Regions from separate parts of the Homo sapiens genome. Here regions 1 and 3 are each reported to be linked to region 2. The links are microRNA targets in miRTarBase. Many come from high-throughput screens and were not tested one by one. Region 2 holds a microRNA gene; each other region holds the end of a gene's coding sequence.
Evidence for each region. Region 2 holds the annotated microRNA hsa-miR-548ai (AAAGGUAAUUGCAGUUUUUCCC, at 1,127-1,148, opposite strand). A microRNA usually pairs through its seed, bases 2 to 8, with sites in the 3' UTR of a target mRNA and lowers its output. Matches are read on the target gene's strand: a 7mer-m8 pairs with bases 2 to 8, a 7mer-A1 pairs with bases 2 to 7 and ends in A, and an 8mer does both.

Region 1: miRTarBase lists SLC38A1 as a target of hsa-miR-548ai. Seed matches in the 3' UTR shown: 7mer-m8 at 1,883-1,889 and 7mer-A1 at 1,471-1,477.
Region 3: miRTarBase lists RIMOC1 as a target of hsa-miR-548ai. The part of its 3' UTR that is shown has no 7-base or 8-base seed match.

The regions. Positions count from the first base shown.
Region 1 is chr12:46,186,382-46,189,642 of GRCh38, forward strand. SLC38A1 (solute carrier family 38 member 1) reads right to left here. Exons shown (of 17, transcript NM_030674.4): 17 at 1-2,690. The coding sequence ends at 2,589. Among named protein-coding and RNA genes, the nearest start is that of SLC38A1, 81 kb to the right of the region's middle.
Region 2 is chr3:195,697,312-195,700,572 of GRCh38, reverse strand. It overlaps MIR570 (microRNA 570), which reads right to left and starts at 1,172; the gene lies at 1,076-1,172. The region is part of intron 2 of MIR570HG (MIR570 host gene); the gene reads right to left. LOC124909477 (a long non-coding RNA gene) reads right to left here. Exons shown (of 2, transcript XR_007096227.1): 2 at 1,503-1,543.
Region 3 is chr5:41,916,653-41,919,913 of GRCh38, forward strand. RIMOC1 (RAB7A interacting MON1-CCZ1 complex subunit 1) reads left to right here. Exons shown (of 6, transcript NM_175921.6): 6 at 364-3,261. The coding sequence ends at 647. Among named protein-coding and RNA genes, the nearest start is that of FBXO4, 7.0 kb to the right of the region's middle. RefSeq lists an enhancer at 1,695-1,854.

The DNA.
Region 1 (3,261 bases), not on the chromosome of region 2:
CCCCATGCCTAGGGTATAGTATTCTTTAATCTACTAATTTAGCAGAAAAACTTCCATAGCACTTGACTGTGCTGTTTAAATTCGACCTAACATCTGTGATACATGTATTTTTGGCTACCAATTAACTATTCTGAATAAGAATAAGAGCAGTATACTTTACAGCTAATCTCACACAAAGGATGTAACTAATCAGTGATATTTGACGAATTATGGTAGGGTCTATTATATTCAGTCAACAACAAATTTAGAGAAACATACAAAGGTTTTTAAAAATATGGGTGGTGTCACACAGATCAACAACACTGTGCCTCCTCTAAATAAATCTATTTTAAATAAATATTCCTTGTATTGACACATGAAACCCAGAGGCCCAAAAATATCACTACACATCCCAGTTAATGATAAGGTTCTAAATTGACTTTGTGAGGGTAAAATGAATTGCTATAAAGTAACAAGGAAAATAGAAAGTAGCATAATATAGCTTGCAAACTAAATTATGTATTTTTAAAGGTACAGTCATCCCACTACCTGGCTATTTCATTACTTGGTGCTCTAGACAAGCTCCCAAGAACTGACTGGATCTTGGCTTGTTCTGTTTCTGTCATTGCTAATATAATATGGAAAACATTGCTGAAAAGAACAGAGATGGCCATGGATATGGCTAGGTTAGGTATTCATATCCAAATATCTGAACTCTAACCTAATGTGGATATGATTCTGTAGCATTATATTAAAAGCTATGATGATGCAATGCAGGAAATAACCTTTCATTCTCCCCCCTAGAGGATCACGACAGGTGCTTCAATGCCTGCCTTATCTATGGGACAGTAGTGTGATTCTCAGTGAGAGTGAAGGCCTTTGGGGATTTGAGTCAGGAAGGGAACATGGCTAAGTGCCTGGAAACTCTGCCAACAGTCTGCGGTTAGATTCTACTTGTCTCTGGATAAGAAATCTGTGCTCAGTGAACTTATGTGTTTGGAAAATTTAACCAGAATATAGAGGAAGCATAAGTCCTGTTTCAAGAGACCAGCTCACGGAGCATGCACATTTCTCACCATAGGCAAGCTATGGACAATTCAATCACATGGGATGGCCCCACTTAGGGGAATGCAGTTCTGGGTTTCCTTGCTATCCCTATTCTTTTTCAGCTACAAACTCTCTTCTTTTTCAGTCTCTTCAGTTTCCTTGTGCTCCCTTTAGGAGAGGGACAAGGGTAAGAGTACCAGGCAACTCTGTCCTCCTGCATGGACAGTTGAGACGGGCAGTAATGGCACAGTCCTTGGTTGGGGAAGAGAAGAGGAGACAGCACAGACACTGAGACCCCCTTGTCTTCCTCATCTGGGGGAAGGAAGGTACTCAGTGATTCTGTCAGAAGCTCTTCACAAAGACTATCTCTGAGGGTTTTTTTTTTTTTTTTTTCACAAGACTAGATGGAGAATTAATGAAGAAGAAATAGAAATGAGGCTTATTTAAGGTACAAAATTCTTGTATTTGTAATAACCTAGATTTATAGATATAAAACAAGTCTTTTAAAGACTTCCCTAAAATACTCAATATAAAACAGGAGTTACTTATCCTAGATCATCCTTAGTTAGGTACACATGATTCTCTGTGCAACTAGCTGGTGGACATGAATAAAAGCTGCTGGGCCTATAATGTACTAAAACATTTTTCTCCCTTCAGCAAGACAGGTAGGGTTGAAGGCTAAATGCATCAGAGGAGTATTTTCTTAGGCATTTTGGACAATCTTTTTGCAGTAGGTTCCATAGGTTTTCCCCAGCGAAAGTTGACTCAGACCAGAGTAACTCTGACACAAGTTGCCAAGAGGGAAAAAATACTTCATTTGCTAGATTACCCAAATGTGTAGCTTCATTTAATTACCAAGGTAAGAATCATCCCCAACCACTTTTCAGCTGAGAACACTTGCCAGAGAATGTCTCTGGATGGGAATAGATGTGGTACCAGCTAGGCCACTGGACTACCCGAGTTCAGCTGCCAGGAAATCAGAGCCACCTCAAATATTGGGCATGCTCTGATTCAGCAGTGGCAGTGCCCTATAACTTTCAGATGATTATCTCCATGTGCTATGTTAACCAAAATAGGCAAATTATTTACGAAACCATTTTTTTCTGTAAAGCAAAATAAATATATACAATTCAAGATTCTTTTCTCTTCTAAAAAGGTACAGATAGTGTGAGCTGAACATCAGTAGGAAAATTATTTCAGAATCTGGATGTATAATAAATAAACATTATTGTATATCATGTTTTCAAAGTTCTAAGAGACCGGGAAGCCACAAAACATAGAGTTAGATGGGTAAAAAATGATTGTGAAAAGTACTGGGAAATATGATTGTATGAAATTTGAAAAAAAAATTTCACAATCCCTAAATTGATCTCAAATCTTGGAGGGACATGAAGCATTATAGAACCATGTCTCTGTTTTGCAACCAAAAAGTTATTCCATTTTAAGTATCCTGTACATTTCTGTTTGCTTCTGTAAACTTGCAAAAGAAGTGGTGAGAGATTGCTGATGTGTGGGGACTTGACTGAGCAGACAACAGGGATGTTTCTTTTTCTCGGCGGGTTTCAGTGGCCTTCGTCACTACTCGATGAGCAGGCCCAGTCATAGATGACCAAGGGAATGCTGACCAAGGAGAACAACACCCCCAGGCCCAAGAAAAGGGCAGCCTGGAGCAAGAGAAAGGCAAGGGTTATTTTCAGTGCAGCAAAATTTTTCCACATGTACCTGGGGAAAAAAAATAGAACAGTTTTTCCTCTCCCTTTGTGTCCTCTGGTATTCAGAGTTTGTCACAACCATGGCTGAACTGTGAGAATCTTTCTAAAATTTTATGAATCTGATTCTGCAAGGATGGGAAAATAGGAAAAAAAAAAAACTAGCTAAGCAGAGTAGTCCTCTATGTCCCATTCTTTGACTTCATGGTCACCTCAAGTGTATGTATCCATTCTACAAATAACTGGGTATCCTTATGGCTTCTCTCAAACTAAGATTACAACCAAGGGGGAATAAAGGCCTTAGAAAATATCCAGGTCATTTTGTTATTCATTACCTACCAACTTAGCTTATCACTGGCAAGCAAACATTTCTGTTTGAAAAAGTGGAAAAAAAACATACAAAAGCAAAATAGATTTGATTAAGTGAAATAGGAAACAGGTGTCAAAAACTAAGTTACCTGAAGGGCTGATGAAGGCCATAGGTGGACAGATGATGATATGGTTTGGCTGTGTCCCTACCCAAATC
Region 2 (3,261 bases):
GTTTTGCCATGTTGGCCAGGTTGGTCTTGAATTCCTGATCTCATGTGATCTGCCTGCCCCAGCCTCCCAAAGTGTTGGGATTACAGGTGTGAGCCACCATGCCTGGCCTTATTTTGTTGATTCTAACACGTGGTGATATCTCCTGGTTTAAAGAAGCGTTTCCCTAATGGTATCAAACATCTTTTCATGTGCTTATTTGCAATCTGTATATCTTCTCCAGTGAAATGTTGCTTTGTATCTTTTGCTCATGTTCTAATTGCATTCTTTGTTTTGTTACTATTTTAAGACTTTTAAATGTATTCTAGATACTAGTCCTTTGCAAATATAGTCATGCATCGCATAAGGACATTTTGGTCAATGACAAACTGCATATAGGATGCGGTCCCATAAGATTATAATAATGGGCCTGAAAAAATTCCTGTTGCCGAGTGCAATGCTACTCATGTGTCTAGTGATGCTCGTGTAAAGCTACTGTGCTGCCACTTGCATAAAAGCACAGCGCACACCATTCTGTACAGTACACAATACTTGATAATGATAATAAATGTGTTCCTGGATAGCACAGCACACACCATTCTGTACAATACACAATACGTGATAATGATAATAAATGTGTTCCTGGTTTATGTATTTACTATAATATACTATTGATCAGTGTTTTAGAGTGTACTCCTTCTCTCTATAAAAGAATTAAGTGAACTAGCAGGCCCTTTGGGAAGTACTGTAGAAGGCATTGTTACCACAGGCGATGACAGCTCCATGTGTGTTATTGCCCCTGAAGACCTTCCAGAGAGACAAAATGTGGAGGTGGAAGACAGTGATACTGATGACCCTGACCCTGTGTGGATCTAGGCTAACATGTGTTTTTGTGTCTTAGTTTTCAACAAAAAAGTTTAAAAAGTTAAAATACTAAGTTTATAAAGTTAAAAAGTTACAGTAAGCTAAGGCTGACTTATTGAAAAAATGTGCTTATACATGTAATATAGCTAAGCTGGCTTTTGCAAACATAGAGTCCTGTGGATGTTATGCTGACTTCGGCTTGGGGTTTTTCACAGAGAGAAGCATGGCAAGGGGGACTCCATCAGGTTGGTGCAAAGGTAATTGCTGTTTTCGCAATTAAAATAATGGGAAAAACTGCAATTACCTTTGCACCCACCTAATAACTTATCTAGGGGACTCTTTCTCCACCCAAAACCCAGGACACTTGGCCCACAACTACATCACCACCCCAGGGTTCCAGGACACTTGGCCCATGACTACATCACCACCCCAGGGTTCCAGGACACTTGGCCCACAACTACATCACCACCCCAGGGTTCCAGGACACTTGGCCCATGACTACATCACCACCCCAGGGTTCTTTACTATAGTTTTCTTGTTCTTCCTTCAATTACGTGTGACATTCCCAACTCCAAGATTCTTCCAGTCCTTCTCTCCCCCTTCATCTAAAGCAGGCTGTCATGAGTTTCTGTCAGCTGCAATCAAGAGTCATGACTCTTACAGTGGGTAGGATTACTCCCTTTTTTGTTGTCATTAAGGAAACCTGTAAGAGGAAAAACAAACACACTTTATGTGGAGAGACAGGGAAAGTTGTTCTATTCAGTCTGGAATCTAGTCCCTCAGCTGGTGGTCCACCTTCGGATTCACTGGTCTTGGGAGTAAGACGGTGCCTTGTAGTCAAAGAAGTGAGGAATTCTGGTGCCTCCTGAGGGTGGAACTGAGGAGAGGAGACGTGAGAGAGGATGCTGGAAAGGAGGAAGCAGCCAGAATGTGTAGGGCCTTTGTGGCCAGGCCAAGGAGCCTCAGGGAATATCTGAGCGTCTTAAATAGGTCAGAGGGCAATTCTGAAAACAAACTCCTTCTACCTGCTGTGTAGGCAATGAGTTGTCATTGTTAGATAGAGGATAAAATGAACCCAATTAGATTATTGCCATCATTCCAGTGATTGAAGATGTTGATCTGTAATAGGGTAATGGCCATACACTTTCGAGAGGAAAAATGTTCAAATTTAGGGGATAATTAGAAATCTGCACTTACAGCCCTTGGTGACACTTTTCCTATGAGCCAAACGGAGAGGGGGAGAGAGAGAGAAGGTGGACAGTCACCGACATATGAGGCAGTGGAAGAGGAACAGGCATGGATAGGAAGAGAATTGTGGGACACACTGGGTTCGAGATGCCTGTGTGAGACAGTCTCATGAATATGTCCAGTAGTATATTGACCAAGCAAGTCTGTCAGGAGCCTCTGGAAATGAGGTACAGAATTTGATAGTCATCACTATGGAGATGGTAACCTGAGCCGTGAGAGAAGCTAAAATCCCCGGGGAGAGGATGTAGAATGAGAGGAGAAAATGGGCCAGGACAAACACAAGGAATGCTCGGAGGGAGGGGCAAAACCAGAACAGTACAGCGTCCCCAAACCAAGGAAAAGAATGTTGCCAGAAGAGGAGAGTCAGGCTGTTTCAAACTCTGCTAAGAAGTGAAGGATGTTGCATATTGAGTAGAGTCCATTGGGGTTACCAGTCAGGCTGACTCAGGGATCCTCTTTGGCAGAAGTAGTTCCAATGAAGTGGGAGGAGGAAGGGAGGAGCAGAGGCCAAATGAGCGTGAGGAGTGTTTAGGAGTTGACAGAAAGTGTATCCACTTTTTTGAGACGTTTAGCCAGGAAGAGGGAGAGACATGGGGCAGTAGGTGGAGGAGGAGATGAAATTAAGGGAGTGTATGGAGTTTTAAAATGGAAAGCTTGATCCTGTTTAAATGCTGTTTTATGCCCCTACGAGGGCGAGGTTAAACATACAGAATAGAGGCATAACTGATAGAGCCAAGACTCCCACCCAGGAGCGGGTTTCGAGCGGCACCTCTCTAATTCAATCCCAAAGGAAAAGAGGATACATGTGGGTCCAGGTACATGCTGAGGTTTGGTGGCAGGACTTTGAAGGAGGTCCCATCTGATGGCTTCTATTTCTCCTGTGAAATAGGGGAAGCCCTGTCTGCTGGTTGTGATGTGCCGTGACAGTCAGAAATGCGGGGAAAAGGGGACAGGTCTGAAACGGGAGGCGTTAAGAATGGGAAAGTAAAGGCAGGCGCGATGGCTCACGCCTGTAATCCCAGCACTTTGGGAGCTCGAGGCGGGTGGATCACCTGAAGTCGGGCATTTGAGACCAGCCTGGCCAACATGGTGTAACCCCATCTCTACTAAAAATACAAAAATTAGCCAGGCATGGTGGTGTGTGCCTGTAATCCCAGCTACTTGGGAGGCTGA
Region 3 (3,261 bases), not on the chromosome of region 2:
CTGAAATTGACTGCAGAATTTGGGGTGTATATTCTGGGAGAAGTTCTATTCCTTAAATTAGATTCTCAAAGAAGTTATAGAGTGGACCCCAAAAAGGTCAAAAACACCTAAATGGTTCTCTAAAAAAATTCTCTGGTACTCTGTTTTTCTTTTTGTAATGGGCCTCCTTTATCAGTAAAATCGATATTAAAAAATGCTAATTAAATGAAGATTGTGTTAGTCATATTTGGCTTTTGTGTTACTGTTAAAGTGAGAATAGAAAATGCTTAATGACAAAAGGAACTTTAATTAGAGTTTAGTTAATAACTACGGTTTCTTTTTAAGCTTTTAATTCTAATCTGTCAACCTAAATGACTTTCCCAGGAATATTTAGTGACATTCATCTGCTGGCTATGATGTACAGTGGAGAAATGTGTTACTGGGGATCGAAGTATTGTGCTGATCAGCAACCAGAAAATCATGAAGTGGATACTAGTGTGTCTGGAGCGGGCTGCACTACATACAAGGAACCCTTGGATTTCCGAGAAGTAGGAGAAAAAATCTTGAAAAAGTATGTATCTGTGTGTGAAGGACCCCTGAAAGAACAAGAATGGAATACAACGAATGCAAAACAAATTTTAAACTTCTTTCATCATCGCTGTAACTAGTAAGTTCATCTAGTCCTTTTCAAATAGAAAAACAACAAAACCCATGAAATGGAAAAGAGAGTTCCAAAAAAGAAGACCTGTTGATACTGAATATGAGAACATTACACTGCATAAAGATATCCAGCTTGGGTACCCTACTAAAACAACATCACCATCTTTTTCATTATATATTAGTAAACCTATGAAGGGATGATTCTTTAATTTCTAAAGTGTTGTTCAAACTCACCTTAAAATACAGATGTTATGTCACTAATAATGAGTAGTAACCCAATTTAGCTTTACAAAGATTTTTTCTATTACTTTTTTTTTTTATTGTGGTATATGTAACACAAGTTTACCATTTTTATCATCTTTAGATTATTTTTAAATCTCACTACCTTGAAGTTTGCCATGCTTCAGAAATTAAAGTCAAGTTACTTCACTGCTTTGAATACATACTATGGATATAAATGTAGGCAAAATGAAAGATTATGACTAATATTCAGATTCCATTTTCAATAAGGTAAATAATGAAAGATCTCACAAAGGAATCATTGTGTTTAATTATTTTGCCATGTATTACTAATTGTATTTAAAATTTCTACTTCCCTTAGGCATTTTATAAAAATTTAAAAATTATTTTTCTATTTTGTTTAAAAGACAATGCATGGCTTTTCAAGTGAGTAATGAAGATAAAAACCAAGCTAGGTTAGTCTACCATTAGTTCATATGTTTTTGTAGCACATCTTTTCATAACATACTGAAATTTTAATGTTTTTTGCCTTTAATAATAGGGGTGAGTGTTAAAGGCCAGAGAGCCTAACTTGATATCTTGCTCATGGTCTTTCTGTCTACCTCAACTCCTGTTGTCATCTTTGGATGATCTTTCTGATACCTTGCTGATACCTTGGACTTCTGCCCAGTGACTTTATTACATTCCAGCAGCTTACTCCCGTGGCCGCACTTTGAATGTCACCACCTTGAGTTTCTCTTTCTGGTAAAATTTCAGTAACTGATAACTGCCCTCTTTTCAGTTTTTTCACTTCCTTATTTTATTGACTTTTCTCTCCTTTATGCTCATTCCACATTCTTCAGTTCCTTCTTACCCCCTTTTCTTGACTGCTCCCCTTCCTCCTAAACTGTCAGCCCCTTTCAGGCTTTCTTCCCTATCCACCCTCAGCTTTATGGGATACTATATGAACTAATCTCACCAGTTATTCTTCTTTCCCTGGTCTTTTAGTCTAGTCCTTTGGCAAGCCCTCAACCTCAGATTAATCCTATTTATTATCTACCTTTTCGGGGATGCTGAGTTCTTTGTGATGGGTAGTCCTTCAAAGTAGAATCACTACAAGTGTCTCACTTCAGCCTTAGAAAAGCCCTCAATGTAAACCTTATGTTTGTTACTAGGGTGGCCTCTCTCCCATTTCCCGCTGTGGCTGAGCCAAACTTCATTACTTTCCTTAGGCCCTCTGCCCCTCCCCTAGCATATGGCTCTTTCTCCTATTGAACAGAAAATTGAGACTATGAAGAGGTCAACTTGTATTTACCAACTTTACTCATTTTCCCATTTTAGAGGAAAAGAGGTTGCCTGCTTCCTATCAAAGGCGACTCTGTGCTACATGTTGGTTTCATCTTCGCTGTCTCTCTCATTTCCCCACAAAGTGTTGTCTCACTTTCTGCCTACCTTTTAGGTATTGATCTTCACTATATTTTTTTCTCTCTCTCTCTTTTTTTTTTTTACTTTACATATTTTATACAATGTCATTCATAACTATGGCTTCTTTTACCACCTGTAATAACAGACTGAGTCTCAAACCTGTAACTTGTATCCTGACTTATCTCTTGCTTTCTAAACCTTGTTTCTAACTGTCTATCAAATATCTTCATTAGACATCCCACAGTAATTTTAAGCTCAGTGTTTCCAAACGTCAAGTCCTCATCTGTTATATAAAATCCTTTCTGCTTTGTAAGTTTTCTCTTTTTGGGATTTTCCGCAGATCAGGGCAACACAGAATGACTACCTTCCCAGCCATGTCTCTGCAGTCATCCTGTGTAATCATGTTCTAGTCCAGTGTTGCTCAAACAGTTAAAATCCAGGCTGCTTTTGGTAAACATACAAATTCTGATATAGAGCCTCTGTGGCAAAGGGAATTTCTCAGTTCCTGCCCCAGCCCCCTTGTTTATCATTACACAGCTAAGATTTTTATTTAACTTAGCATTTTAGCAAGTTTTCTTATGAAAATACCTTTGTGCTTTCTAAGTATAAAGATTTAAATTATTTTTAATACGGTTTTTAGAACCACAGACTATCCCTCTTTTTAGAGCATCCTGATCAATTGCAAGTACTTCCACTTCTTCCCTAAATGCGCTTTGTGTGTTTTCCACCTCAGTAGCCTTGCACACATCATTACTTCTGCATCCTTCTTTGTGACCAAGTGAATACCTACCTACCTCTTAGGACTCAGCTTCAGTGATTCTGTTTTCATAGGCTTTTTAAAGCCCTTTTCAGTCAAATTAGATGCTCCTTTGTTCTGGTCCTTTACTCTTCCCCTCCCATGTTGTCGCACTGATCACACTGCTTTGTAATTATTTTCTTTATTGTTGGTAAACTCCATATTTTAAAAATTTACCTGTA